4 linked regions of the Homo sapiens genome follow. The protein of the gene in region 4 interacts with the protein of the main gene of each other region in a biochemical or structural test. Each region holds a gene or a part of one and is shown on either strand. Other genes may lie near its edges.

The links.
Region 1: the proteins of ZEB1 (region 4) and SMAD7 form a complex in vitro, tested with the Homo sapiens proteins (one study listed by BioGRID).
Region 2: the proteins of ZEB1 (region 4) and TRIM26 form a complex in vitro, tested with the Homo sapiens proteins (one study listed by BioGRID).
Region 3: the proteins of ZEB1 (region 4) and USP51 form a complex in vitro, tested with the Homo sapiens proteins (2 studies listed by BioGRID).

The regions. Positions count from the first base shown.
Region 1 is NC_000018.10:48,919,521-48,927,598, reverse strand, and holds the end of SMAD7 (mothers against decapentaplegic homolog 7), read left to right. Parts: intron 1-5,688; coding exon 5,689-6,227; 3' UTR 6,228-7,746; downstream 7,747-8,078. UniProt on the Homo sapiens protein: Antagonist of signaling by TGF-beta (transforming growth factor) type 1 receptor superfamily members; has been shown to inhibit TGF-beta (Transforming growth factor) and activin signaling by associating with their receptors thus preventing SMAD2 access.
Region 2 is NC_000006.12:30,183,262-30,189,791, forward strand, and holds the end of TRIM26 (tripartite motif-containing protein 26), read right to left. Parts: intron 6,273-6,530; coding exon 6,157-6,272; intron 5,939-6,156; coding exon 5,906-5,938; intron 3,298-5,905; coding exon 2,615-3,297; 3' UTR 1,194-2,614; downstream 1-1,193.
Region 3 is NC_000023.11:55,486,122-55,495,115, forward strand, and holds the start of USP51 (ubiquitin carboxyl-terminal hydrolase 51), read right to left. Parts: upstream 3,728-8,994; 5' UTR 3,655-3,727; exon of another isoform or gene 3,245-3,654; 5' UTR 3,048-3,244; intron 2,926-3,047; exon of another isoform or gene 2,868-2,925; 5' UTR 2,819-2,867; coding exon 683-2,818; 3' UTR 1-682.
Region 4 is NC_000010.11:31,503,613-31,511,690, reverse strand, and holds part of ZEB1 (zinc finger E-box-binding homeobox 1), read right to left. Parts: intron 1,019-8,078; coding exon 816-1,018; intron 1-815. UniProt on the Homo sapiens protein: Acts as a transcriptional repressor. Inhibits interleukin-2 (IL-2) gene expression. Enhances or represses the promoter activity of the ATP1A1 gene depending on the quantity of cDNA and on the cell type.

The sequences.
Region 1 (8,078 bases), on a different chromosome or scaffold from region 4:
GGGAACCCTGTTTTAGGGATGAGCTGAACTTACCGGGAGGCTGCATGCGAGGTTGGTGTGAAATGCATATCTGGCTTTGTAGCTGGTCGGCTCACCTCTGGGGTTGGCACAGGGGCGGGGGTTCTGCCATGGCTAGAATGCGCTAAGGGGTGGAAACGAAGCCTGCTGGGCCCGGGAACCAGAGAGCAGCCTGGCCTTTGAAGGAGACCCTGTGGCACCCCCTGCCCACCCCCAAGTCCAGCCATCTCACTTCACTGGAGATGCTGCAAAGCATGAAAAAAAAAAAATCCAGTGTTCTCAGGTCAGCCTTCCACCAGCCAGGATTCATCGTCTGATCTGTTTGGGGAGAGAGCATGGGGTGGTGGAGATGGGTTGGGCCCCAGTGTTTTCTGATTAACTCGCAGTTTACCTGAAACATTTTGGTTTGTTTCCTCCATGAGGAACTCACTCTAAACCCCAGCATTGTCTGTGTTTCCTGAGGAGTCTGAGGGAGCTCTGGGGTCCTATTTCCTCTTTTGGATGAGGCTGTGAGCATGGTGGATTAGAGACAGCCCCTTAAAGTTAGCCCAGATATCTCAGCAAGTTTTACGCGTCTCTATTTGGGGGAGGGATTCGCCTATTGAAAACAAGAGACCAGCAAGGGTCCTTGTGAATTATGATGGTTTGGCGTGAGAATAGATGGGATGGATTGGCACTGGAGTCCCCTTTTATCTTAGGCTTGTCCCTGAAGAGGGCTTGTTGATATCAGAACAGCCAATTTCCTGACAGGGTTGGGAGCAGGGGATGGGTGCTGTTAACCTTTGAGATGTCCGTTGTGGAGGGAGAGACAGGATGAGGCAACCGTTGGTGGCGCCTGGGTCCTGAGGAGGGAGGACCCTGGACCTGGCGTTAGCGAGGCGTGGTGATGTTTGCGCTCCCAGGTTGCCAGGTGCAAGCTGTCTGTGTCCACATTTCTGCCCTTCATTTGCCCCTGATTGGCACAGGGAGCCTGCAGGAGGCGGCCGTGCCTGCCCAGGCGCCCTTCCTCCCCAACTTCTCCGTCCTCAGCCTTCTGCTCTGCTGGACCATGGAGGAGGGGGCTGATAGGCCCGTGGCCCTGTTGGACTTTGGCAGAGGAATATCACTTCATTATCCAAGTGCCTCACAGAGATGAGAGCCGGTGGAGACCCGTCCTCACTCGCCTTTGACCCCAGCTCCCGGTACCCTAGCAATTGGGCACATTTAACCGTGGGTCATCAGCTGATGGAGCTCATGTCTTTACTGGCTTTTTTCCCCAAGCTTGCCCTTGTTCCTAAATGGAATCTTGGGGGACCCCCTCCCCACAAGTACGTTCTTTGTGTGTCTGGGCCCAGTCAGGCCCAGATAGCTTCTCTTCCACGCGTGCCCGTGTTCTCATAACCCCATGGCTGTTCTTGGAGCTGCTCTGCCTCTCTGCCCTCTGCCTTCAGGTGGAGAATGGTATTGTTGAGGCACTGAGCAAGGCCTTTCCCCCCTCCTCCCATTTTTCTTCTTTCTCATCTCCTGACGCCTTCAAATTAAAAATTTAAGAAGGGGTCTGGGTGCGGCGGCTCACGCCTATAATCCCAGCACTTTGGGAGGCTGAGGCTGGCGGATCACGAGGTCAGGAGATCGAGACCATCCTGGCTAACACGGTGAAACCCTGTCTCTACTAAAAATACAAAAAATTAGCCAGGCGTGGTGGCGGGTGCCTGTAGTCCCAGCTACTCGGGAGGCTGAGGCAGGAGAATGGCGTGAACCCGGGAGGCGGAGCTTGCAGTGAGCCGAGATTGTGCCACTGCACTCCAGCCTGGGCGACAGAGCGAGACTCCATCTCAAAAAAAAAAAAGAAAAACATTTAAGAAGGGGAAAATTCCTTGCTTAACCTAAAATGTGGCCTTGAGGCCTGGTCACCCTGTGCCATTGAGACCTGGGGTGTGAGGTTCATTCACGAGCCTCTGGTCTCCTGGAAGGGTCTGGTCTGTTCATTCATGAGCAGGGTAATTAAATAACTCTTTGTAAGAGTCAGGGAGCTCCTTGCTAAGTGGTCTTCCCCAGTTGGAGCGCAAACACAGGCTGAAGTCCTCTCCTTTCTCAACACCCACCTCCCCCTTCCCTTTAAAGGGAGGATTTTATGCTTTAAGGGAAATGGGGAAGGTTGGGGGGGGGCAACACCTTAAAGGAATTTTAGGCAGATTCAGCATTTTTCTGGTGTTGCTCCAAAAATTCCCCACACTGTAATAAAAAGATACAACTGTGAGCAGGCATCTGATTAGTGAGCTTTTTACAACACAGCTTTTCTTTTGGATGCTTTAAAATGAACACATACTGTTTTAAAACAAGCCCCTGTACAGTTTTCTGGGGAGGGGGAGAAGTTTGTGGAAAATACCGGAAAAGGTTATAAAGCTGAGGGAAATTAACAAAGGACTGTGAGTTTTGCCTTCAGAGGTTAACTATCAGCGAGAGGCCAAGGCTCTTCCTTAGTCCTTGTACTGACTGAACTTCCCAGCCCCTCGACACGTGGCCCGGGAAGTCCCTGGGAGCAAAGCGTCCACACAGACCTTTGTGGGGAGACTCGTGTGGGCTGTGGGCCCGATTCAGGGAACTGTGTTTCTGTGAAGATGAAGCTGAGCATTTCCCAGAAATGAGCCCAAATGGCGGGGAATTCAGGGCAAAGGGGAATCTCTGTAGTGGCAATGGGGGATGTCGTGCGGGGTCCCCAGAAGGTGTGATGTCCACACAAGGGTGTGTGTTCGAGGGGCCTTTGCTGTTGCCGAATGGTTTTGCTGGAAAGCTTGTTTTTTGTGTGTGCTTAGAGATAGTCCCGGCAGGAGGAGACTGGAGCTGTCCTAACGGGAGGACAGAGGCTGCTGGTGGGGGAGCTGGAGGGGACAGCGAGGGAGGAGCAGGCAGGAGTCTCCCTGCGGTGGGTTAGGGCACCAAATGGACTTCAGGGCCCTTGTTCACACACAGCAGCATTCACGACATCCATGCATTGCAGTTTTTCTGGGCTGGGCCATTAACCTCAGCAGAAAAATGCTTTTTCCAGGGGGTGTCTGGCAGCACATTGCTGGCGGGCTGCACAGATGAAACAGAAACCCACCTGACACTTCCCCGTCCTGCTACAGATCTCAGGCTCCAGTCCCCACCCAGCTTCCTCTGCCCCCAGAGGCCCCCACCCTTGGCAGACAAGGCTTCCACCCCTTGCCTAGGTGGCTGACAGGCCTGGCATGGGGGCACCTCGATCTCAGGTCCATACTCCACTCACTCCCTTGCTCCTCCTCCTCCTCCTCCTGTTGGCCGGTGCCAGGTTTCAGTGGGTCCTGGCTGCATGAAACAAAGCATTGTGAGGCTCTGCTGAGGGTCTCCCACCCACCCTCCCTCCCGCCTCCTTCCCAGCAGCTCCTCGAGTCTTCCTTTCCAGGCCAGGTTTGTTGTCCCGAATTGGGAAAATAAGCAAAAGCTTCTTGTGTTTCAGAACACCCTCCTCCACACCAAAAGGGTGGATGTGCTGTGCCTCCCGGAAGAGGGCTTTCTCCCCCGCTTCACACTTGATGCCAATGTGTCCTTCCTTCCCTGGGCGTTCAGGTCTTTGGTGTAGCCTTCAGAGCTGAGTTCCCTCAGCAAGAAAGTTCAAAGATTGCCAGCGCTCACAAGTTTATTAGCAGTTGATGGATACTTTGCAGAAACAAGTGAATGCCTGATGAGTCACCTTCTCCCTGTCCCTGTCTTGTTTTCCATATGTTCCAGTACGTATGTGCACACAGAAACACACATAACACACACTCGTACACACTGACATCATGGACACAGTCTTGCACACGCACATGCACAAGCACTGGACTTCCAAGCTACATGGGGGGTGGTGACCGGCCAGTTTTCTGGTGTTGATTTTTAGTGGGGGTTGGGGGTTGAGGGAAAGGAATGAGACCTCAGTGTCCCCTTTTTGTGGAGCTTTTGGGGCAGGCATTTGGGAAGGCCAGCTTGGGGTGTCTGTAGGGAACCGCTGCTCTGGGTGTGTGTGTCTGTGGCTGCCCCAGCAGGCCGCAGTGTGCACATTTGTATGGCCTTACTGACGGGCACCTCCATCCAACACTGGCTGCTACTTAAAACAACAACAACAACAACAACAACTGAGTGGAGCCAGTGGGTTCCCAGGTCCTAACACGCCTGTAAAAGTTGGAGCCAGTTAGTGTCCTGGGCTGCCCCAGTTACCCAGCCTGCTGGGGCAGCAGGATGCGGCCCCATCTTCCGCCATGGACCCCCTGCAGGGTGCAACCCATCATCATTGACTCTGAACCCAGTTACTCCAGAAACACAAAGGCCACACCAAAACACATCTCACACTCAACCCCTGCTTTGTGCCCCCCAGGTCCCCAAGAGGAGGAGCTGGGGCTGCAGGGAGCGAGGGCAAGGCCCTGACCGACGTGGGGCCCTTCCCCTCTGCTTTTCCCCCTCTGCTGTCCCCATTTTTGTTAACAAATACAAGACTTCCGGTCTCCACCCTGCTGCCACAAACCACAGCGTTCCTGCAGTCTGGCTGGGCTGGGGAGATTTATGGTCCCAAGTCTGAGGCCTGCCCGCTGGCTCCTACTTAAGGAGGAGTCAGAATGCCCGCCGCCGGGGCTCCCTTTCCCTCCGTGTGACCCCCCTTTTAAAGTCCTCCAAGTGCCTGTTGAGGAAAATTACCTTACCAGAATCACCCCGGCCCCCAGGCTGCCTGTGGGAAGACTGTGTAGGGAAGCGGGGCGGGGCCTGCAGGGGAGGGATGAGGGCGGAGCAGGGCGCCCTGCAGGCTCCAGATGCTTCTGTGGAAGGAGGGGAGAGAGGGGGCACCCCTGGGGATGGGGGTGCCGGCAGAGAAGGGGAGAAGGGGGACGCATCTATTTGAGACACATAATCTTCTGTCTGGGCTGGAGGAAGCTTTGTTAAGGTAGCCCGGGTTAATACCGGTCTGCATGTTGTGATTTGGCATTTTGACATGAATTCACCCTTTGTGTACAGGGCTGCTGCTGACACACTGAGACTGTTTTCCTATTAGGAATATAGATGTTTTTGTCCCAAGCCACCCTCATTTTTATTTTTACCAGATAGGTTCCTCATGACCACGGCACTGATTTGAGAGCTGGGTGACAGGCACCCAGAGACCATCGCATAGGTGGTCCCAGAGTCTAGACACCTGGGTTCTAGCTCTGGCTGTGTCATCCCCTGGTACTCCAGCAGCAGGCTTTCTGGGTCCTGGTTTTCTCATCAGGATGACAAGGGGCTGGAGGAGCTGGCCTTCAAGGTTCCATCCAGTTGAAAGATCTGTAACTCCAGGACGTTGCTGAGGCTTTTTGAGGCCCTAAAAGCAGACTACCCAAGCTATTAAGGGTCCCTTTGCATCTGTGCTCTGCAGAGAAGAGGCTTTGTTGGCCAGGTGGGCACAGATGCTGGTGTACTGGACTCCTGATGGGCAGGGGCCTGGAGAGAAGCAGCACCCAGCGCTTCCTATGCTTAAAGAAAGGCAGGGTCCTGGTCAAAGGGCTGTAAGAGCCTGGGCAAGTCCAGGACTAGCCTCACCGCCTCCTTCTTTCTGTCTCGTCCTGAGAGATGAGCTGGTGACTGGGTGCAGTGGGGGGGCGGGTGTCTTCATTCTAGGAGTCACCAATGCCTGTCCCCACTAACCCTCTCTGCCAATGTGTTTTCTAGATTCCCAACTTCTTCTGGAGCCTGGGGATCGGTCACACTGGTGCGTGGTGGCATACTGGGAGGAGAAGACGAGAGTGGGGAGGCTCTACTGTGTCCAGGAGCCCTCTCTGGATATCTTCTATGATCTACCTCAGGGGAATGGCTTTTGCCTCGGACAGCTCAATTCGGACAACAAGAGTCAGCTGGTGCAGAAGGTGCGGAGCAAAATCGGCTGCGGCATCCAGCTGACGCGGGAGGTGGATGGTGTGTGGGTGTACAACCGCAGCAGTTACCCCATCTTCATCAAGTCCGCCACACTGGACAACCCGGACTCCAGGACGCTGTTGGTACACAAGGTGTTCCCCGGTTTCTCCATCAAGGCTTTCGACTACGAGAAGGCGTACAGCCTGCAGCGGCCCAATGACCACGAGTTTATGCAGCAGCCGTGGACGGGCTTTACCGTGCAGATCAGCTTTGTGAAGGGCTGGGGCCAGTGCTACACCCGCCAGTTCATCAGCAGCTGCCCGTGCTGGCTAGAGGTCATCTTCAACAGCCGGTAGCCGCGTGCGGAGGGGACAGAGCGTGAGCTGAGCAGGCCACACTTCAAACTACTTTGCTGCTAATATTTTCCTCCTGAGTGCTTGCTTTTCATGCAAACTCTTTGGTCGTTTTTTTTTTGTTTGTTGGTTGGTTTTCTTCTTCTCGTCCTCGTTTGTGTTCTGTTTTGTTTCGCTCTTTGAGAAATAGCTTATGAAAAGAATTGTTGGGGGTTTTTTTGGAAGAAGGGGCAGGTATGATCGGCAGGACACCCTGATAGGAAGAGGGGAAGCAGAAATCCAAGCACCACCAAACACAGTGTATGAAGGGGGGCGGTCATCATTTCACTTGTCAGGAGTGTGTGTGAGTGTGAGTGTGCGGCTGTGTGTGCACGCGTGTGCAGGAGCGGCAGATGGGGAGACAACGTGCTCTTTGTTTTGTGTCTCTTATGGATGTCCCCAGCAGAGAGGTTTGCAGTCCCAAGCGGTGTCTCTCCTGCCCCTTGGACACGCTCAGTGGGGCAGAGGCAGTACCTGGGCAAGCTGGCGGCTGGGGTCCCAGCAGCTGCCAGGAGCACGGCTCTGTCCCCAGCCTGGGAAAGCCCCTGCCCCTCCTCTCCCTCATCAAGGACACGGGCCTGTCCACAGGCTTCTGAGCAGCGAGCCTGCTAGTGGCCGAACCAGAACCAATTATTTTCATCCTTGTCTTATTCCCTTCCTGCCAGCCCCTGCCATTGTAGCGTCTTTCTTTTTTGGCCATCTGCTCCTGGATCTCCCTGAGATGGGCTTCCCAAGGGCTGCCGGGGCAGCCCCCTCACAGTATTGCTCACCCAGTGCCCTCTCCCCTCAGCCTCTCCCCTGCCTGCCCTGGTGACATCAGGTTTTTCCCGGACTTAGAAAACCAGCTCAGCACTGCCTGCTCCCATCCTGTGTGTTAAGCTCTGCTATTAGGCCAGCAAGCGGGGATGTCCCTGGGAGGGACATGCTTAGCAGTCCCCTTCCCTCCAAGAAGGATTTGGTCCGTCATAACCCAAGGTACCATCCTAGGCTGACACCTAACTCTTCTTTCATTTCTTCTACAACTCATACACTCGTATGATACTTCGACACTGTTCTTAGCTCAATGAGCATGTTTAGACTTTAACATAAGCTATTTTTCTAACTACAAAGGTTTAAATGAACAAGAGAAGCATTCTCATTGGAAATTTAGCATTGTAGTGCTTTGAGAGAGAAAGGACTCCTGAAAAAAAACCTGAGATTTATTAAAGAAAAAAATGTATTTTATGTTATATATAAATATATTATTACTTGTAAATATAAAGACGTTTTATAAGCATCATTATTTATGTATTGTGCAATGTGTATAAACAAGAAAAATAAAGAAAAGATGCACTTTGCTTTAATATAAATGCAAATAACAAATGCCAAATTAAAAAAGATAAACACAAGATTGGTGTTTTTTTCTATGGGTGTTATCACCTAGCTGAATGTTTTTCTAAAGGAGTTTATGTTCCATTAAACGATTTTTAAAATGTACACTTGATTTCATGTTGTCCTCCAACTCCTTTTTCTTCTGCTGCTTGGAGGGAGTGGGGAGGAGTGAGTATTCATCCAAATTCAGTTGAGTTGGCGTCTTCCCAGCCCAGTGCTTGGAGGATGGGAGACGTGGGCCACAAAAGAGACATCTAGAACAGCCCTGGTCTTCAAGAGTGCTGGAAAGACCTGCAGCCACCCAGACATCCCTCCTTCTTGTGTCTTGAATTTGTAATGGGAGACAACCTACAGGAGCTCTGTGGGTGATAATTCAAAGCTTGTAGAATTGAGGACAGGGAATTACATCTAGGGTAATGGGAAGGAGACAGGATTAGAGGATGG
Region 2 (6,530 bases), on a different chromosome or scaffold from region 4:
CAGAGCTCAAGGCCACAGTAAGCTACGAGTGCACCATCACTAGAGCCTAGGTGACAGAGTAAGACCATGTCTCTAAAATAATAAAAATTCAGCCAGTTGTGGTGGCTCACACCTGTAATCCCAGCAAGGCAAACACAAAATAGTTTGCTGAAAGGTATGAACTGGGTCTTTGGAGGGAGGTATGGGGCAGGGAAATGTTCCTATTTGTAAGAAGCACTGTAGAAAGTTTACCATATGTGCAAGTAGAGTTATACAAAATGAAAAACTATGAATATAAAAAATAAAAAGGGAAAATTTACATGAGCCCACAACTTAGAGAACAGAGAGGAAATATGCTCTTTGCCACTAGCGTAATTTTACAGGTAGTTTCGTATAATCCTCCCTTTTCCATCTTTAAGATGGCAATTTAAAAAATCAGAAAGGACTGCTGGGCGCGATGGCTCACGCCTGTAATCCCAGCACTTTGGGAGGCCGAGGTGGGTGGATCATGAGGTCAGGAGATCAAGACCAACCTGGCTAACATGGTGAAACCCCGTCTCTACTAAAAATACAAAAAAATTAGCCGGGCGTGATGGCGGGCGCCTGTAGTTCCAGCTACTCGGGAGGCTGAGGCAGGAGAATGGCGTGAACCCGGGAGGCAGAGCTTGCAGTGAGCCGAGATGGCGCCACTGCACTCCAAACTGGGAGACAGAGTGAGACTCCATCTCAAAAAAAAAAAAAAAAAAAAAAAAAAAAAAAAAAAAAAAAAAAAAAATCAGAAAGGACAAGAAAAACAGTTGACTGTGTTAGGATGCAAGGCTGAATCTCTGCACATTCTATTTCCTCTGAGGCAGTGCTTATTTTCCAAGGAAGAATTTTTGGGTGTGCTATACTGGAGGTCTCCCTTCTCAGGGAGAGTCATCACTTGCTCCAAAACGCTGGACCTCAGCTCAAGGGCACCACTGCAGGAGGAATAAAAAGGTGGAGCCACGCAACAACTCGTCTGTGTTCCGCAGTAGGCTCTTTTTGAGGGACTTCCAGAAATGACAGCATGTGTGCAGAGAACAGAAAGCAAAGTTACACTGTTACAGAAGGCACAGAAGGAAAACCTTCGGCTACTGCTATCAGTGGAATTTCTCTGTAGCCAGACTGAGGTCTGGTGGCATTTGAGATATAATATAGATATAGACCTACAAATACAGATCTCCAGGCTGTTCATTCAACAAGTCTTTATTGAGCACCTACTCTGTGCCCAGCACTGCACTAGGTGCCATGAGAATACAAGAGTAGTATAAGATGTTATCCGCCCTCCAGGAGCTTACAAAACTAGAGGCAGAAATAAGATGTACATGTGACTCAGGCAGCATGTGACACACACAAAGTGGGCAGCTCTGAGACAATGGTGGTCAAGTGACCACTGAGGCCCAGAGCCGTTGGAACAGTCTCTTAGAACAGGGTGGAGGACTTAAAACTTGGATGAACAGGGGCTGGCAGAGCACTTGGAATGGGTAAGGACAAGACTGGGAGATCAATTTGGCTGGAGCAGGGGAGCTTGTGTTAAACTGTGATGATGAGGGGCACCTGGACAGAGGTTGGGTCCGTGGGCAATGAGAAGACATGTTACTCCCTCTCTTGACATGAAGACCTGGTGGGCTTGTGGCCTCCTGCTGCCTTCCTTTCCCTGTCTTCCCATCTCCACTCTCTCCTAGGAAAGTGGAACCTGGATGCTGGTAGGGCCAGAGACAGAGGCTTAACACCCTGCTGGGGAACCCGGTCAGAACTCCCGAGGCAGGAGAGGTTCTGCTCCACTGGATGTTTGTCTTGGTGTTTTTGGATGTGCTGATCAAGAGCAAGATGTTCTGGATTCTTAAAACTCCCCTCACAAGGACCAATCTAGAGATAATTTATTGATCAGTGATCACAGCTTGTACCCCAAAGCCGTGTATGTCTGGATCCTTCCCTAAGACCACAGATAGCTCCAGGGAGTCCCACCTCCTTGGCTATGGAAATATGCTCAGCCCTGGTTTCAGAGAAGCCTGGACTCCACTCTGGACCCCATGAGATGATATGCGCTGGTACTCCAGGCTTTAAATGGCCTGGGAAGCCTCAGTGGATTTTGTTTATTTTCAGCATTGCCATGTATGCTTAACTCTGAGTTGGGGTGGGGTAGGTCTGTTTAAAATGCCAGGGAAGGTGGGCAGCAGAGTGGATTTGTGCAAGAAGGAACCTGGGGGGTTTAAGGACAGCAAAATGATCTTAGGCGTAATTGACTGGTTTTTCTGAGGTCTTGCCACACTGGGCAAGAAAATGCTGCATCGGGCCCTTATTCCAGAGAGTGCAGAGCTGGGGCCAAGGTCGTGGTCAAAAAGGAAAGGAGCCCTCATGGACTCCAGGGTCAGAAGTTCCCTCGGGAAACCAGCAGGAGGTGGGAAAAGAGCCCCATTAGGGCAGTAGATGGAGCAACAGCACTGAGTGAGATTTCAGGGGGCCACAGCAATGGGGAGGTGGCTACCAGTGGATATGGGGTCCCCTGCTCCAGGTGCTTAGGCCAGGCATCCCGTCCCCCCATTGAGAGTCCTGGAATTCCAAAGAAGTGAAGCATCTGAGGGTTGGGGCTGGGGGCAGATGTCAGGGCTCAGGGTCTTAGCAGGAGGCGTGTTCCTGGCCACTTGAGCCACAGGAAGGGGACCAGGCGCCGGGTGAAGGTGGCAGTGAAGGTGTAGATGAGTTCCTGTGACTCTGCGTTGGTGAAAGTCACGGTGCCCCCTTCATAATCCAGGGCGATGCCCACTCTCCGGGGCCGCAGTGCTGGGAAAAGCTCAGCCTCGGGGCTGGTGTTGGCCCAGATGCCGGAGGAGGAGAGGCGCAGCGCCCACACGCCATCCTCTGGCCGCAGGGAGAGGTCTCCCTTCCTCTTCACAGAGTCTCTAGCCACCCCCACCATGCAGCTTTCCAGAACTTCCTCCTCTTCCTCCTCCTCTTCTTCCTCTTCATCGCCCAACGATTCCTCATCTTCGTCCGTTTCCCAGTCGTCATATCCATCCCCATAGCCGGCCTCCTCTTCCTCCTCCTCCTCTTCTCCCTCTTCCTCCTCATCCCCCTCTTCTTCATCCTCAGACCAGCCCTCCCTCTCCACTTCCACTTCCCAGTAGACCTTGCCCCAGGTGAAGCCCTTGCTGCCTAGCACCCCAGGCTCACAGTCAAACTGCTGGGGGTGCAGGTAGGCACTCTTGTACAGGCTGGTGTAGGTCACGCACTTCCAGTCCTCTGACAGCTGCAGGTACCCACTGGCCGACTGTGGGTCCAGGGTGACGCTCACTGTGGGGACAAGGGAAAAAAAAAAAAACAGCATCACTGTTTTGTTTTGTTTTTTAAGTCAGAGGGAATAAAATTTATTTTGGCAGATAGCGTTAAACAAAATTAAAGTTGCATACATTAGTAATATAACTCAACATCCTTAATTTGGTATAAGTGTGACACATTTTCTGGCTTTGTATTCTGCTAAATCACCATAACTAAACTGCTTTATAAACATGATATACTGAAATTTAACTTGACTGTTTTCGCTTACGCTCTGATTCCAAACAAAACTTTTCATAAGCTTCCTCTATCTCTGGATCTCTGGGTCCAACTCATCATTAATATCATCCAAGTGTGGATCACCAGTCCCTGAAAAATCTGTTCCATTTTCTTCATAATCCAGAAAAAAAGTCCTCTTTTTCAAGTAACTCTTGATATGCTTCTTGGTAATCCGGATCAGCTGCAGTGAAAGGAACACTATGAAACACAATAACTATGTGAATGACCACTATAAAATGTTGGTTCATTCACATAGTAATTGGGATCTTTTTTGGCTGTTGTATTTCTGTATGATGAAGTTGCATGGACTCTACCCCAATTACTGCACTGGGGTTCTACAAGCTTCAAGAGCATCTGTTTCATGTCTCTGCCACAGCTTGCATCTATAACAACATTTTCAATTTCCTGAATAATTTCTTCCATATCAGTCCTTCCTTTTCCTTCCAAGAATCTTCCAAAACTGACCCTGTCAACTTCAGCAATTTTATTGCACAAATTAAGCTGTCATCCACGGGATTAGAAAAGAGGGCATTCAGGCATTCGGCAACTCCTGAAGACCAACCTGAAGAATATCTGCCCTTGTAACCTGTCCATTTGTTCCTCTGATCTCCAGGTTATGATAAAGCTCTCCCAGAAAGGGTACAAATGCATGAAATTGTTTTGGAGTAACTTCATCCCCTTTTGCAGCTTGATCTTTAATGTCATATTCAGTCCGACATCTTTGAAGTAGAAATTGGCGGAAGGTGCTACTCTCTGTGCTAACTGTCAGATGATGTCAGGTAATTACACAGGTGAGCTCCCATGTAAGAGAAATTTGGGGCTGGGCACGGTGGCTCACGCCTATAATCCCAGCACTTTGGAAGGCCGAGGCGGGTGGATCACAAGGTCAGGAGATCGAGACCATCCTGGCTAACATGGTGAAACCCCATCTCTACTAAAAATACAAAAATTAGCCGGGCATGGTGGTGGGCACCTGTAGTCCCAGCTACTTAGGAGGCTGAGGCAGGAGAATGGCGTGAACCTGGGAGGCGGGGCTCGCAGTGAGCTGAGATCACACCACTACACTCCAGCCTGGAAGACAAAGCAAGACTCCATCTCAAAAAAAAAAAAAAAAAAAAGGCCGGGCGCGGTGGCTCACGCCTGTAATCCCAGCACTTTGGGAGGCCGAGGCGGGTGGATCACGAGGTCAGGAGATCGAGACCATCCTGGCTAACACGGTGAAACCCCGTCTCTACTAAAAATACAAAAAATTAGCCGGGCGAGGTGGCGGGCGCCTGTAGTCCTAGCTACTCGGGAGGCTGAGGCAGGAGAATGGCGTGAACCCCAGGAGGCGGAGCCTGCAGTGAGCCGAGATTGCGCCACTGCACTCCAGCCTGGGCGACAGCGAGACTCCGTCTCAAAAAAAAAAAAAAAAAAAAAAAAAGAAATTTGGGACAGATGTGGCCTCTGAGTTCCACAAGTTCTTGCAAAGCATCATCTGTTGTAACACAAGCATTCAGGGTCTCTGTAAACTGTTCAATTTCAGTTTCAAAACTACCAGCCTGCTCTGTAAGATGGTTCAAGAAACCCTGAACAGGTACTGACAGAGTGGGATAATCCTCACCATCATCCTCATAGGATTCTCTATAATTAGAATAACCTGATAGGTAAAATTTGACGGTATTCACAGACAGCTCAGACATTAATAAAGAAGCTACAACCACCTAAGGTTTAACCACTGCTAACTCAGTTCTGCTATGGGATTTTATCCTGTGAACTAGATGAAGCTCTCAGGGCCTCGTTTGCTCCCAGACAGGCCGACCTCCTCAATGGTTCTCACGAAAGCAAGTGTGAAAGTGAGCCAGGAGGAGACCACCAGTCTTCACAATCCAAGGGGCACCATTCACATCTTGGTCTATGTGGATGGCGCTCCTTGGTGGTTGGTATGCAGTGTACAACCTAACTGCAGGGCTGAGAGGGGGCACAATAGTGGGGCCTGTGGTGGATATGGCCTCTGGTCTTAGGTTGCCCCTGCTGTTTGCTCTGAATATAGGAGCCATGCAGCCAGGAAGATGAGAGAAAGCTCGGCCACAGGAAAAGGACTGGTGGTAGGACCTGTGAGGATAGGAAAAAGAAAAGCAAACACAGGGCAGAGAAGGATCAGACTAGCAAGCAGAGGCCTCTACTGCAGACTAAAGAGTAGGCTGATTAGAAAGTGCAAAGAGGGAGGGGGGCTTCTATTGTGCAGCTGGGAAATTCTTCCTGTTGCAAAAGGGGCTACCTGGGGGAAAAGTGAGCAGTCAGAATCTCTGCAGGCGGAGTTTTCTATATTTGATGTACATCTGGGAAACACCCTCTAGACACTCACCTGTCTTATATTCCAAGTCTCTCAGCAGCTTCCCTGGGGAGAAAAAAGGACAGCAATGACTCAAGTCCCGAAAATTTATGAGCCCATTTCTTGCTCGGGCAGTATCAATTTCCTGATAGGGATCCATGTCTAAGACAAGAGGCCCTCAGAAGAGTGAGGATCGACAAGGTGATGGAAAGGAGCTGGGTGCGCTCTTTCTACGAGGTAGCCCTGCTCTGACTCCCACCCTTTGTGCGCTCCCCAACCCTTACCCTGGAATTCCCTCAGGCCTCGTTGCAGAGAGAGGAGTTTATCTGAGAATTCTCCGGTCTTTTTTTTAACCACTCGAGCAATGGGTTTCCCAACCCAGAACTTCTTCCGTGGATACCTAAGAAGATGACATACATAACAAGCTGTTACTCAGCTCTTCTTACTTTCCTTCATACTTATCTCTCAATCCTCATGGCAATTATGAAGGGGAGAGGAAAGGTATGATTATCCCCAAACAAGTGACAGAAAAACAGTGGCCCAAAGACACCAGCTGAACCAGGGCTTCAGAACATCAGTAGACTCCACATCCAGGGCGCTCTGTCTACTAAGCCATGTTTCTAACCTCTCTGCTCTGTCCCACCTCAAATAAGGCCAG
Region 3 (8,994 bases), on a different chromosome or scaffold from region 4:
TTTTAACCTTGTTCCTTAATTTATTTTACATTTTTAAACTTTAAGAATTTAATTTTCTTTGCTTTTAATTTTTAAAATTCTGAAACTTCTTTAAATTAAAAAATTATTTTTAACTTTTAAAATATTTCTTTTAAAAATAACAACTTAAATTTTTTTCAACATTTAAAAGTTTTTTTCTTTTAAAATCTTAAAAATGATTTTTTCCTTTTTAAATGTTTTTCTTTTAAAGCTCTTTAAACTTTATTTTAAAATATTATTTTTCTTTCAAACTATTTAGCTGGTCAGCCACAGCTGGAACACCAATTGTGAAGTTTTTGCTGATAAAGGAATACTCCCTGACTTCACAAGATATTTCTGTAAAAACAAATGACATAGAGTAGCATCAGAACACTTCTACTCCCGTTGTCCCCACCTAAAGCATTCTTTTCATTTCATTATGCTTTATGTGACCATTTTCAACCTCTTCTCCCTCTCCCCATTTCTTAAGGTTGAATGGTCACTGGTTAGTATTCATTTTTTTCTTCCGACAGACCCATGGGCCATGCTAAAATAGGTTCTTTATATCAAGATACTAGCTGTCACATAGGTGTTACTGTCATTGTCCATTCCAAGTAGGTCTGTGTGTCACTTCAAAATCCTTGCCTAATCATTTACTTTTTTTTCAGTAAGTGGTCTGGTAAGACTAGTCTTTCTCTAGACCCTGTTTGTGATAGAACAGTAAATACCCTTCACTGTAGAGTAAGTCCTCAATGGTAGCCTTGGTGATGATGGCATCATCACAGCTGAACCACTGGTCCTTTTGTTGCCGGATGAAGCTGGTATAGTGGCCACTTTCCAAAGTTCCATGGTGATTAATCACTGCAAACAAGGAATACTTATTCTCATTGGGCACACAATCTGTTGGTGGCTGGCCTTCTTTCATTCTGCTCTCTTTAGTAGAGGCCAAAAACGGAGTCATGTCCAGCTCCAAGGGAAAGGAGATAAAGGTATTAATCTTTCGCCTCTGTTTGCCTACATGCTCAAACCGCTTGAGATGAAAACAAGCCACAATGGGTAATTTTTTCATTGTGAGCTGTTTAGTAGACTCCTGGTAGCTTTGGCAACTATTGCATTTGATTTTGGCACTGCTTCCTAGGTGCTCTGGCCTTGTAAACCACTGTAGACAGTCTGTAAGTGAGGGGATTCCTGGTATGTGGTCATCCCTGCTCACTGTGCTGTCAGCCCTCTCTGGGTTCTGGGAATCGAATGTGGCACAAGAGCCAGGCAAGTCCAAACTGATGTCCCAGCATGGGTCTATGGTGGTAGAAACACTATGGCAGGCTTGACATGTGACATCTGATTGCAGGCCACCTGTAAAGATTTGGTCTATGATGCAGTTACAGCAGTTGGGGTTATTGGCCTCCTGCCCACCACTATCATCTTTGCTGTGTCTATGTAGCACGTCTAATATTGCAATAAGGAACTCATGGGCATCCTGCTGCCTGTACCCTGCTAAATGTTCTGCATGGATCCATATCAGATGCAGTAACTTATAGGGAATGTGAGGAGTTCGGCTCCCAGAGTACATAGCATGAAAAAGCGAAGACATTTCACAGACCAGACACAAGCTGGGGCTTGTCATTATACATTTGTGCTTGTCAGAGAGGAAGAAATCTTTCAGTAGAGGAATATGGGTAAGTGCCTGGACAATACAATTCATAAAACAAGTGTTCCCAAGATTGATTAGCCCTCTCAGGCCTACAGTATAGACTGACTTTTTTCTTCTCTTTTTCTTGGGTTTCACCAATTTTGGCTCCTGTTCCTTTGTCTCACAGGTTGATTGCTTGTCTTCAAACCCTGATGTCATAAACTGTTGATGAGAAACATCTGTTGAGGTGGAAGTTAATAATCTCAAAATTTTTTCTTTTGTTTCTTTGGCAATCTGTTCTATGTCTTTGTCATATACATAATCCTTACACATGAAGCAATATATGACCCCATGATAAAGGTCTACAGCTAAATGGTGCTGCTTTGTTTCTGCATGTTTGTGAATATGTTTCTCAGTGAAGCAGCCAAAAAAGACACAGGAGAGACAAGAGTGGAGTCTGTTCATATGGGTACTACATACGTGACAGATGCATGACTTTGCTTTACGTTTCCTAGTCTCTGGGGTCCCACTCCAAACGAAACGCTGGTAGATCAACCTCAGGTTCTTCTGCCAGTTCTTACCTACTTTAAAGCTCTCCACATGAGAGCAGCCTGTGGGACCCTGACCAAACTCGACCTCCAGCAACCAGTCCCCTAAGCCGCCAGGATCCCCCGACCCGTCTAGGTCACCAGAGCAGCTTCTCCGTGTCTGAGGCCTGGACCCAGGCCGGGATCTGCGCCGGGATCCACGCCAGGCCCTGGGCCGCGGTGCGGGTGGGGGCGGGGGTGGCGGCGGGGGCGGGGGCCGGGCTGGAGGCGGGGGTGGGGCCGAGAGCCCAGGCTGGCTGCGGGAGCGGGCCCGGGGCTGGGGCCGAGGGCGGGGCTTGCGGCGCGGGCAAACGGGCGAGGAGCTGCTGTGACAGCGAAGGGGGATTGAAGGGAGCACCTTCTCGTCGCCGCCGCTGCTGCTCCACGTCAAGTTCTCCTCCGGCGCGGGCTCACGCTCTTGTAATGGCTCCAGCTTCATCTCCTCGGCTTCACGTCTCGAAGACGCCTTCGTAGCCCCCGCCGCCGCCTCCTCCATTTTCCCCGCCTTCTCAACCGCCTCCTCAGGAGAGGCTCCTCCCCCACCTCCGGAGATCCAGCGGACCCCAGAGCCGGAGGGCAAAGAAGTTTCTCGAACCTGGGCCATCAGATCACTCCCCGACCTGAGGAGCAAGGCGTCTGGAAAACAGCTGCGACTGTAGATGAAAGGAGACAGAGACTTCTGTGAATGATCTGCCCAGCGTCATGGCCGCGGTGCGCAGTTAGCGCCCCCAGGACCCCTCCCATCGGCCCTTGAGCTCAGCCCGCGGCTTCTGTCGGCTCCACCCACTCAACTGAGAGGCCCCTGGAGCTGATGGGGAGACCGAGGCGGTTACCTGCTTCAAAGGCGATCAGATCATGCCAGGGGACTGGGAACAGAAGGCTAGCGAGCGGTGGGGGTGGGGAACGGCCTGAGCTTTAGGACAGAAAGGATGGAAACTTCTTTAAAAAAGGCGCCACCCTCTGACTGCTTTTTTGCGCCCTGCGCAGCCTCGCTTTGGTGCAGCTTCCTCTGACGTTCTTTCCCTGTATCCTAAAAAACACTTGGGTCAACATTTTCTCTCCAAAATGGCTGAAAGGACGCACTTTTGGAAAATGAACTCACAGGAAGAAAGTGTCCCTCTGTTTCTACCTAACCTATACTTCTGTGACCCGGTGTGTTCCACTCTAAGCCGTTGCCCCTCAGCGCACTTTCGGTCCACCCAGCTCTTGCGCCCTCTCACGCTTTTTCGCGCTTGTGCTCTCACACCCCTTTTCTTGCTTCTGCGACTTCAATTCCTATGATTTCTCCTAGAATTCGGATTACTACTCCCTCCCTTCACGCATTTGCCACCTCTATGGCCACCACTATCCTCGCGCGACCCCCGAAGTCTCCGCTCCCTTTTCCCTCTCCTGCCCCCGCAACACCCCCAGCCCGGCAGTTTGTTTAAAGGTCTGGGTTACCTTGGGCCCCAGGCGCGTGATATAGAACGTCAGCAACTGCTGCTGTCCAGGCGCTCCTCAGCCAGCCTTCTCTCCTGACCTCTCCTCAGGGCTGGTCACAAGGGGGCCGCCCCCTGGCCCCTCCCCTCTCGACGTGCGGCCCCCAACCCCGGATTCTGCCCTCCTGCAGTGATGAATGGCACCGCTGTCCCGCGCAGGCAGGCAAACCTCTTCCTGAAACAGACTCTGCTGGAGGCAACAGCAGCAACAGATTCTACAGAAAGCCCCTGAAATGGAGGCTCAGGCCTCACCTAGCTCCAGGCCCGCACTCCACAGAAAAAAAGATTCACCCGGCGTGGGGGTGGGGGCTTCCAGAGATGGCAACCCTCTGGCAGGAATCCCTCAGGATCCTGTCAGAGCCTGGTCTCTGGGAGTTGACGGAGGGAGGGAGGGAGAGAGAGAGAGAGAAAGAGAGAGAGATTATCCCAGAATGTGCAGGGGAGGAAGCATAAGCAAGGGCTCAGGCTCAGAGAGACCTGAGCCCAGGCACATGCTTGCTGTGTGACCTCGGATAAAACACTTAACTTCTCTGAGCCTTAGTTGTGTCAATTTTTAAAGAGAAATTGAAATAATAACCCTAGCCCAATGTGAACACTGAGTCATAGTATATATCAAGTAAAAGACCTTTTTGGCGAGCTTTATCTGTCACACCTCTTTTTTCAGTCCGCTCCTGAAAATCAGCATAGAGAACAACTCCTGATGCAGAGTAGAGGAGAAGAGAATGCCTTTCTCTTTCAAAGCTCTCTCAAAGTTATGGCTCAGTTCACCCGATCATCCATCCTAGGCAGTCCATATACAGGAGCATGTATTCAACAAAGATGCCATAGGTGCATTATAGCGCTAGATTGTGCTGGGAGAAGCACAAGATACAACTGTTTGTGTCCTGAAGTCCATACGCCAGGAGACTTTTCCTTTTCTTTGACAGATCCGGCATCCAAGGCGACAACCCGGAGGAAAGCTATCTCCAGGGCTTGTTGCCCTTCCGGTCCAATCCCAAGAAAATTACGGTTTATTACAGCGGATGTTTAATGCTACATTTAATCTCTCTGAGAAAGTCACACACCTCCCCTCAAAACCTCACGATTAGGATTCAGCTCTCTTAACTTGGCAGTGGCATCTAGTGGATACCTCCGCACAATGGATATCACTGATTTTGTGACTTGGTTTAGATTCGACCATATCTCAGTCACATACTAGCACCCGGAGGGAAAGTGCTTTGGAATTATAGACTGGCTTGTGCAGGAAAACGTGCTTTTTCTCCCCTAGGGAAGGGCATTTTCTCAGCCACAGCTAAGCAAAGAGTTGCTCCACTCTGGGTTAGCAGCCCTAGAAGGAAATGCTGAGTCAGTCATTTGCTAGCTGTGCCACCTGTGGCTTGGATCCCAGCTGCTCTGAGACAGCCCTGCACCCTTTATGCAGGCAGGGAGGCAGGGCACAATTTATAAATACTTCTGTCTTCTGAGCCTTCGCTTTCTCCTGTGCAAAATCAGAATCATGAGAATGCCAGCCCTACCTAGATTGGTTTATTCAGCAGATATGTAAAGAGCACCTACTGCTGCACTGGGCACTATGAATATACAGCCAAACAAAACTGGGCACAAAAGCAAGTAAGCCAGAGTCCCTGCCTGAGGTCCACATCGGGAAATGCATAGGAATGTGCTGTGAAGATTAATGTTAGTTAATAAAGGCCTAAAAACCACTCGTAATCAACAACTTAATATTTGGGAGGTGGGATTGTTACAGTGCTTCAAAAAGTTTCTGAAAACAGTTGTTATTGAGCTAGACACGCCTTTAAATCAGCCCACACGCTATCGTGACCAAACAAACGATTTCTTCATTGACAATTGTCCTGTAGGAAAACCTCAGGACAGCGTGATGGGTCACTACTGTCAAAATGAAAATGAATGGGTCTGCATGGTTTAGGCCTTTCTGGAGTTCACTGGTTCCTCCAAAATGAAGCTGCGTCTAACCTTCTGGTGGACTTAACAGACTGCTAGACCCCACTCCCAAAGTTCCCAGTTCAGTGGGTTGGGTGAGGCCCAATAATTTAGGTTTCTAACGCTGTACCAGCTGATGCGGATGCTGCTGGCGTGGAGATGGTACTTTGAGAACCACTACTGTGGGATAATGTGTAAAGAAGCCCAGGTCAAGGCACTCTGGCCTTGGTAGCAGGAGCCATGTCTGATGGAGCTGGTTTCCCAGGCCTGTGTTATGTTGGCGTCTCTTACAGATTCTAGCTGTGGCAGGTGTGGCAGGGTCCTTTGGGAGTGGGGTGGTGTATGAAAGAGCAGGATTGGGAAAAAGCCTGCCTCTGTGCTCCTGGTGGCTCGCTCAGTACCTTGAAAACTGGACCCCTGAAGCCTCACACAGCCTTCTTTCTCCCAATCTGGGCCTCTTCCCCTCAATGACCTCGCTTCTCAGAGGCCAGCATCCCAAAGGGCAGACTTGGAGCCATTACCTGCCCCTGACTAGGGCTGCAGGGAGGGTGCCATGGACTGGGTTCCAGTCCTTTGGGGCCCACATTTGTCTGCCCAGCCTCCTGCCCCTGTCCCCTCACTGGATGGATCCCCTCTTCTGTTCCTTTTCTTCCTGTGCTCCAGCTCGTAGCTGGTCTGCCTCCAACCTTCTGAAGCAACAGCCTCAGACACCACTGGAGTGTGCCCTCTCCTGCCCACAGACCCATGGTGACTCCCTGTGGTCTCTTGGTTAAAATGGAAACTGCCCAACTTACTCCAACTCCCCCCCACCCCCACCCCTGAGTAGGTCCAACCTCAGCTTCATTTTCTGCTTTTGTGGGCTCCAGCACTTCAACCACAGAAGCCTCTGTATTGTCCGTGCACATGAGATTACATATGTGAAAACATGCGGCCTGTCAGTCCATTGCCTTCCCTTTGCCCTTGGATGTTCATTTCAAAACATCCCCTAGAGTAGGTGTTTTAGTTGGGGTTCTCCAGAGGGACAGAACTAATAGGATATATGTATCCTACACACACACACACACACACACACACACACACACACACACACACACGTATATGTATACATATGAAAAGGAGTTTATCAGGGAGAATTGGCTCAAATGATCACAAGGCGAAGTCCCATGATAGGCCGTCTGCAAGCTGGGGAAGAAAGCAGCCAGTAGTGACTCAGTCTGAGTCCAAAAGCCTCAAACGTAGGGAAGCCAACAGTGTAGTCTTCAGTCTGTGTCCCGAGGCCCAAGAGCCCGCCTGCAAACCACTGGTGTAAGTCCAAGAGCCCAAAGGCTAAAGAACCTGGAGTCTGATGTCCGAGGGCAGGAGGAACAGAAGGAAGCATCCCGCACGGGAGAAGGATGAAAGCCAGAAGACTCAGCAAGCCAGCTTGTCCCACCTACTTCCATCTGCCCTGCCTTACCCGTGCGGGCAGCCAATTGGATGGTGCCCATCCACATTGAGGATGAGTCTTCCTCTCCCGGTCCACGGACTCAAACGTCAGTCTCCTCTGACAACACCCTCACAGATGCACCCAGAAACAATACTTTATCAGCTATCTAGGCGTCCTTCAATTCAGTCCAATCAAGTTGACACCTAATATTAACCATCACAGTAGGGATCCTCAGCCTTTTGGTGCCTTGGATCCCTTTGATATCCTGGTACAGCCGGTGGATCCCTTAAGACAATGATATTTTTAACATAAATATATATAACTAAACACACGGGATTATAAAAATGCATTGTATGGAGATGGCATTTTGTACTTTTAGAAAGATATTGTGATGTGAGGAAATTTTTTTTTTAATTAAACCTTACATAACTATCACAAGATGGGTATAATAACTACCATAGTTTCAAAGTAGTGCTGAGCATAGGTGATACTCTGAGAAATGTGAAAGAAGTGTAATGTGATACCGAAATTTTTGTTGGCGACACAGTCACATGTAGTACTACTATCAATGGAGTTTCATGCCTAGGCTCATAGTTTTAGGACATGATCACTGTAAGTTAGAGGTGGGTGAAAATAAAGGCGCAGCTCTTTTCCCCACACACATGCACAGACCTCTCTCTGACTAGGCTTGCTTTACGATGCCCTGAGCACTTTGCCTGCTTAGTGGGCCAAAGAATTACAGACCATTTATTAAGTGCATATCGTGTGCTCTTTTCTCTTTCTTTTTTCTCACAAAACTTTGGTATGCCCTATTTATGAAGAAGGAGAGATACAAAAACAAAGAGCATTATTTCAAAATCATAAATGTGTTAACACTTAAAACTGACAGAATTAAAGAAAAAAATAGAAAACCCACAATCACAGTTGGATATTTTAACACTGCTCTTTCAATAATTCATAAAACAAAAGGCCATAAGTCAATAAAGATATAGAAGACTAAACAACACTGTGAACCAACTTGTGGTAATCGATAGTTATGAAATACACCACTAATGTACACCATAAAATACAGTCTTCCTTCAGTATCTGCAGGGGATTGGTTCCAGGACTCCCGTGAATACCAAGATCCTTGGATGCTCAGGTCTCTTACATAAAATGGTATATAGTGTTTGCATATAACCTATGCACATACGCTCGTGTACTTTAAATCATCTCTAGACAACTTATAATACCTAATACGATTATGTGAATATGGTTATGCTGTATTTTTTTTAATTTGTATTATTACTTTTTATTATTGTATTGTCATTTTTGTTTCTGTTTTATGTTTTAAAGTATTTTCAATTGACGGTTGAATCCACAAATGTGTAACCTGCAGATATGGAGGGCTGACTGTACACATCTTTTGAAATGTGCTTAGTATTCAGTAAGATACAGGAACTGAGAAACTTTTTCTTAGAAAAATAGTAAATATTTTAGGTTTTGTAAACTACTCAACTCTGACGTTTTAGTATAAAAGCATCCATAAATAATGTATAAATAAATGGGTGTGACCGTATTAAAAAGAAAAAAAACCCTTAACTGACAATAACAAGCTGCCAGCTCACAGGGCGTACTTTGCCAACCCTAAGATACACTATATTCTAGGACCATAACACAAGTTTTAACTAATTCCGAAGGAAGAAAATCATACAGAGTACATCCTCTGTTCACAACCGATTAGAAATCAATAATATTTAGATACATAGAAAAGTCTCCATTATATGGTGCTTAAAAAATCACATTTCTAAATTACCCACGAGTCAAAGAAGAAAGAGCCAAACCTGACACAGATAAAAGACCAATAAAAGACATTGGTCTTTTATTACCAGAAAAGACCAATAAAAGACATTGGTCTTTTATTACCAGAAAAGACCAATGTCCCTCATGAACCAAGAT
Region 4 (8,078 bases):
CTGGAAATGTGGCCTAACCCCAACATGTACCCTCACAAACCCTGTGTGGCTGAAAATTTATTTAATTTTTAAAGTTAGAATTAAGGCAATATTAATTTCATTGTTGATGGCTGATAACTATGAGGACCTTGTAAAAGAGGAACAACTGATAAAAGCTTTTTTGACTTTAATCCTAAATATAGAACCAGCAATTTAAATGTAACTTATAGTTACAAAACAGTCTTGGTTTATACTTCTGAAAACTGGGGCACAGTGACACAGAAGTAGAATAAACCATATAAAAATTGAGTCTTCAGAATAAAAAAATCTAAACTTTAGATTTTTAGAGGAGGCAACTCCCTTTACTACGGGGGAAAAAAACCACGTAGCTTATACTGAGAATAAATAGTAACTGGTTCAAAGAAACTTAAACTTTTTAATTTGACTTTCTTGTCAATTTGGTTAGTATAATGTGGTTTATATAGTCAGTACTTATTTTTCCTACACTGAACATTTTAATAGAATGCAATTTAACATCTTCTAAACTTGAAGAATTAACTGTTATGGCATAAGCAAAATAATTAAGTCAAGATGGAAAGGGTCTTACCTGAACAAAATACTGAGTTACCTCTAAAGTAACGTTCATATGTGGTTTTTAATCTCAGGAATGACCAGATAACTCAAATAAATAATCATTTTCACTTTTATAAGGCTGCAGATATAGCACTGTTTAGTACATTCTTTTAACTTTCAAATATATTAAAATCCTTGCCTTCCATTGAGGGCTGAGTTGTCAAAATCTGGAAAGTTAGTGAACTCTCAGTCATTGCACTTACTTGATCTCTTCCTGATTTATGTGATGTCATGTGACGTTCAAGTTGGGTTCTGTATGCAAAGGTGTAACTGCACAGGGAGCAACTAAAGTTATCTTCATTCTTTTCATGACGATATTTAATGTGTTCTTTCAGAGAGGTAAAGCGTTTATAGCCTCTATCACAATATGGACAGGTGAGTAATTGTGAAAATGCATCTGGTGTTCCTGTAAAAGAAAGATCATATATTTTAAATTTAAAACATTCAGAAAATATTACCAAAGTTTCCACTGAGTCCCTATGCTATGTTCCAGATATTGTGCTACCCACTTTATATTTGATCCTCAAAACAATGCAATGATACTCATCTCTATTTTATAAGAGAGAGAACAGTGGTTTCCAGGAAGGTTAAATAACTTAAAAGAAAAGTCACAGAGCCAGAAAATGATGAAGTCAGGGTTCAAATACGGGCTGTCTGACCTTCAAGTCCCATTCTTTTTCCCTAAACCATAATTCTTCCCTTTTGTCATGTGATTAGCTAGAAAAGAAAACAAAAGTAAAATTAGAATGTAGGTTGTCTTTGTAAGTGTATACAGATTAAAGGGGAATTTTGTGCTCTACAACAGAGTCTATTGGTAACAATGGTATGTATCATTATTTATTTAATGTTTATTCCTCTGATTTTGAAAATGAAACTACCAAGTCATCATCATCAAAGAGTAAACAGTACACACACACTATGTTTCCAAGAGTCCCTTGCAGGTAGGTGTGGCCATAGGACTGAGTTCAGACCAAAAAAATAGTGTGTAAGGTGGGGAAGGAAAGACTGATGGGGGCCAGATCTAGGCCTGCTACATAAACACATCCCATGCATGACCCTGCTTGTAATTTCCCCTATTGAAATACACTGGCAAATCTGCTATATAACTGTATATGTATGAATATATATAGCTTTTAGAAAACAAAGGCATTCTGAATAAATTAGTTTACTGAATGAACTTTATTTTTACACTTGGAGCTGTCTAAGCCTGACAATCCTAAAATGTAATATTTTGCCAATTAATATTATTTAACTAAGAGTAGTTTTCCATATTTGACATTTCTTCAATGAAATAAATTAAGTGATATCTTTTTGTAAACATCATCTCTATTTTCATTTTGAATTCACTATAGAAAAACAAACCACCACAGATAATTTCATAAAATCTCCAAGTGCTTTCTGAACATATATTCCTTTATTCAAGTCCATATAAATCAAATGTCTTGCTCAAGGACCAGACTGCAAATAATAGACTGAGCACCTGAATGTTAAATAGTTGGTCAAATATGTTGAGAGAGGGGCTTCAAGATGGCTGAATAGAGGCATCTGGTACTCACCTCCTCTACAAGGAAAAACCAAAATAATGAGGTAATAATCACACTTCACATAGATCATCTAAGAGAGAACACTGGAATTCAACAGAAAAGTGACAGGAAACACCTCAAGTAAGGAAGAAGGAAGTAAAGCAACCTGCAAAGGCTCTCCAATGCAGGGAAAGAGTAAGTGAGAGACCCCCAGGGGTCCACATTCCCACCATGGACTCCTGCAATCCTAGCCATGGGAGAACCCCTGGACCATCGTGGGCTCTGAGACTAACACAGGGAGGTATGTGGAGACCACATGACAATGCTGCTCCGGAGAGGGAGCTTATGCTGAATCTGTACACCCCCTGAGTTCTAAGTAGCTACAGCACAGCACTATTTTGAGAGCCCAACCCCCAACAGACTACATCCTGTTGAGCCCCACTGACATACCTCCCTTCCCAGTCATCACTAATGCTGGTTGCGGCTGCTAAGGCTGAAGTGCAAGCCATTGGCAGTGACCATACCTCCTCCCAGCAGAGGAGCTGCACACATTTTTACATGCCCCAAGGACAGACTCCCCAACAGACTGCTGCCACTGTGGGCTTCCACCGCTGGGGACAAAGTGCTAGCCACTGGCAGCGACCCTAATTTCCTCAGCAGCTGAGCTGCTAAGCATTTATAAGGGACCTGAGGACAGGCTACCCCATCCACAGCCGCTGTCTGGGGCTAAAGCGCACATTTCCCAGCTCCCTCCCTATGGCTGCTGCCACCAAGAGCAACCTTGCCCTCCCCAGTAAGAAGGCCACAGTGCAACCACTGATGTCCTTACCTGAGCACTCTGCTGGTGGCCTGGGATCATCCTGCCCCTGCCATGATAGCCAATGCCTACACACACCACCAAGGGGCCTGAGGACAGGTCCATCTGGCCCAGCTTACCTCCTCCCCAGTTTCCGAGCATGCTATTCAGGGACGTGGGGATGACCCAGCCCAGTCCAACACTGTTGTCACCTGAACACTCCTCCTGGAGGCCTGAGGTTGGGTCCACCCAACCTGCTACTATCACTACAGCTGGCACCCTCCTGCATGCACCACCGGTAGGCCTGGGGACTGACTCACCCAGCCCATTGCAGTCACTGCCAACACCAGCGTGAATCACTAGGGAACCAGAGGGTGTCCTGCCACTGCTACTGCCATTGCCCAAGTGACATCCACTGCCCAGGAGCCTGAGAACCTGCCCACCTGCCCAGCTTACCACTGCCACTACCAGCACCCAAGCAAGCCACCTGGAGTTCCAAGGATCAGCCCAACTGGACCTGCTAACACAAGGTGTCAATGTGCCACCCTGTGGTCTAAGGACAGGTACTGTAAGCCCGTTACTACCACTGCTAGGGCCCAAGGAATGGTCCACCTGGCATCCCTGTCCCAGCCAAACTTCACCTCAGCCTCCACTAACAATTGCACCTAAGCCAACGAGGAAATCACGGACCCTACTCACACTATTTATAACGAAAGATATCATACAGAAATTACACTACCACATGTACCCAGAATCAAAGCCAAAGTGCCCTACTCAACCAATGAAAGCAAATCCAAAAAACCAGAATAATTGACTATTATACCAGATGTGTGGTATCAAGGTAAGAATACAAGAAACATGAAAAAGGAAGGAAATATGACACCTCCAAAAAATACAATAATTATCCAGCAACAGATTCCAATCAAAATAAATTTATGAAATCCTGGAAAATGATTAAAAATAATGATCTTATAAAAGCTAAGTGAGATAGAAGAAAACAGAAAAGCAACACAAAGGAACCAGAAAAACAAATCAGGATATGAATGAGAAATTTACCAAAGAGGTAAGTATCATAAAAAAGAACTAAACAAATTCTGGAATTGAAGAATTCACCGAATGAAAGACAAAAGACAACTGAAAGCTTCAGCAATAGATTAGGTCAAGCAGAAGAAGAATTTTAGAACTTGAAGACAGGTCTTTTAAAATAACCTAGTAAGAGAAAAAAGAATAAAAGAACAATGAACAAAGCCTGTGTGACATATAAGAAACTATAAAGTAACCAAATATTCGAATTTTTGATGTGTTATAAGGCAAAGAGGAAACAAAAGGGATAGAAAACCTATTTAATGAAATAATATCCAAAAATTTCCCAAGTCTAGCAAAGGATTTAGACATCCAGATACAGAAAGCTCAGCGCACCCCCAAATAGATACAATTCAAAAAGATCTTCTCCATGGCACATTATATTCACTGTCAAAAGTAAAAGACAAAGAGATATTCTAAAAACAACACGAGAAAAGTGTCCAATCACTTGTAAGGGAACCTCCATACGACTAATAGCAGTTTATCAGCAGAAACTTTATAGGCAAGGAGAGAAAGAAATGATATATTTATTCAAAGTATTGAAAGAAAAAAACCCTGCCAGCCAAGAATATCATACCCAGCAAAATTATCCTTCATAAATGAAAGAGAAATAAAGTCTTTCCTAAACAAGTAAAAGCTGAGAGAATTCATGACCACTAGACTGGCCCTACAAGAAATGTTTAAGGGAGTCTTATCCATGGAAGTGACAGGAAGATATCTACCATAATGAAAACACATGAAAATATAAAATCCACTGGTAGAACAAGTACAAATAAGAAAGAGAAAGAACTCAAATGTTACCACTATAGAAAACTATCAAACCACAATAATAATCAGTAAGAAAGAAAGGAACAAATGATACACAAAACAACCAGAAATCAAAATGACAGAAATAGGCTCTAACATATCAATAATAATAACATAAACGGATTAAACTTTCCACTTAAAAGGTACAGATTGGCTGAATGGATAAAAACTGTGACCCAGCTATGTGCTGCCTAGAAGAAATTCATCTCACCTGTAAAGATCCATATAGACTGAAAGTAAAGGGACAGAAAAAGATGTCCATGCAAATGGAAACCATAGTGAGCAGGAGTAGCTATAATGAGATAAACTCTTAAATCCAGTAAACAAAACAGTATAAGGGGACAAAGAAGGTCATTAAAGAATGACAAAGGAATCAATTCAGTAAGAGGATATAACAATTCTTAACATATATGTACCCAAGACTGGAGTACCTGGCTATATAAAGGAAATATTATTAGATCTAAAGGGAGAGACAGATTCTAATACAATAATAGTTAGGGACTTCAACACCCCTATCAGCATTAGACAGATCATGTAGAAAGACACTTAACAAAGAAACACTGAATTTAAACTGCATTTTATACCGAATGGATGTGAGACACTTACAGAACATTTTAACCAACTACTAAAGGATACATATTCTTGTCATCAACACACAGAACATACTCTAGGATAGACTGTATGTTGGGACCCATGACAAGTCTCAAACAAATTTTTAAAAATCAAAATCATATCAAGTAGCTTTTAGACCACAAAGTAATACAACTATAGATTTTAATAATAAGAGGAACTTTGGAAACTCTACACACACATGAAAATTAAACAACATGCTTTTGAATAACCACGGGGTCAAGGAAGAAATAAGGAGGAAAATTTAAAATTTCTTTAAATGAAATTAAAATTAAAATTTCTTTAAATGAAAATCAAAACAGAACATATCAAAACCTATGAAATATAGCAAAAGCACTAAGAGGAAGTATATAGCAATAAATACCTAAAACAAAAAATAGAAACATTTCAAATAATCTAACAATGTGCCTCAAGAACTTAGAAAAGCAAGAACAAAGCAAACCCTAAATTAGGATTTAAGAAGGAAAGAAATAATAACAATCAGAACAAAATCAATGAAATGAAGACTAAAAAACAACACAAATAACAAAACAAAAAGTTGGTTTTTTTGAAAAGGTAACAAAACTGATAAACCACTAGCTAGACTAAGAAAAGAACAGAGAAGATGCAAATAAAAAATGAAAAAGAAGACTAACAAATGATACCACAGAAATACAAAAGAGACAATTATGAACAACTATACATGAAAAAACTGAAAAACCTAGAGGATATGGATAAATTCCTGGACACAGCCTACCAAGATTAAATTAGAAAGAAATAGAAAACCTGAACAGACCAATAATGAGTAATGAGATTGAATCCATAATGAATATTTCAAGTCCGGGACTGAAAGGGTTCACTGCTGAATTCTACCAAACTGTCAAAGAAGAGCTAACACTAGTTCTCCTCAAACTATTCCAAAAAACTGAAGAGGAGGGAATTCTCCCTACTTCATTCTATAAGTCCATCACTATCTTGATACCAAAACCAGAGAAAGATGAAACAAAAAAAGGAAAACTATCCAGGTCAATATCCCTGATGACAACAGATACAAAATCCTCAAAAAAATATTCACAAACTAAATCTAACAGCACGTCAAAAAGATAATGCAATATGATCAAGTGGGATTTATCCCAGGGATGCAAAGATGGTTCACCTCCATATAATAAAGGACATATATGACAGAACCACAGCATACTGCATGGAACAAGCTGACAGACGTCCCTCTAAGAAGTGTAATCAGAAAAGGATTTCCACTCCTTCACCACTCCTATTCAACACAGTATTGGAAAGTCCTAGCCAGAGCAATTGGGCAAGAGAAAGAAATAAAAGCCATCCAATTTGGAAAAGAAGTCAAATAGTCTCTCTTTGCAGACTATATGATCTAATATCTAGAAAAACCTAAAGACACAACCAAAAAACTGCAATCTGCTAAATAAACTGAAAGTTGCAGGATACAAAACTCAACATAAAAATCAGCAGTGTTTCTGTACACCAATAATGAACTAGACGAGAAATAAATCAAGAAGACCATCTCATTTATAGTAGCTACAAAAAAGTAAAATACCTAGGGATAAATTTACCCAAGAAGGTGAAAGACCTCTCCAAGGAAAACTACAAAATATTGATGAAAGAAATTGAAGAAGACACAAGTAAATGGAAAGACATCCCATGCTCATGGATCAGAAGAATTAACATCATTAAAATGATCATATTGCCCAGAGCGATCTACAGATTCAATCCAATCCCTATCAAAATATCTATGTCATTTTTCACAGAAGCAGAAAAAACAATCCTAAAACTTTTACGGAACCACAAAAGACCAATATAGCCAAAGCAATCCTGAGCAAAAAGAACAAAGCTGGAGACATCGCACTACCTGACTTCAAAATATAATACAAGGTACAGTAAGGAAAACAGCATGGCATTAGTAAAAAACAGACACACAGACCAGTGGAAGAGAACAGAGAACCCAGAATAAAATCCACATTATTAACAGCCATTTGATTTCGACAAGGCACCAAAAACATACACCAGGAAAAGGACACACTCTCCAATAAATGGTGCTGGGAAAACTGAATATTAACATGTGAAGAATGAAACTGGACTCCTATTTCTCACCACATACAAAAATCAACTCAAGATCAATGAAAGACTTAAACATAAGACACAACACCATAAAACTAGAAGAAAACATACAGAAAACACTCAGGACATTTGGGTAGGCAAAGACTTTATTGCTAAGACTCAGCAAAGGAAACAACAGAGTGAATATCTGCAAATTACTCATCTGACAAGGGACTAATATGAAGAATACACAAACTATTCAACAGATTTAAAAAACCCAAATAATCCTATTGAAAAGTGGGCAAAGGATATGAATAAACATTTCTTAAAAGAAGACATACAAATAGCCACAGATATACAAAAAAATGCTCACCATCACTAATCATTAGAGAAATGCAAATCAAAACCACAATAATATATCATTTCATCCCAGTTAGTATTGCTATTAAAGACAAAAACTAATGAATGCTGGTGAAGATGTGGAGAAAAGGGAACTCTCATACATTCTTGGTGGGAATGAAAATTAGGACAGCCACTGTGAAAATACTACGGAGATTTCTCAAAAAAAACTAAAAATAGAA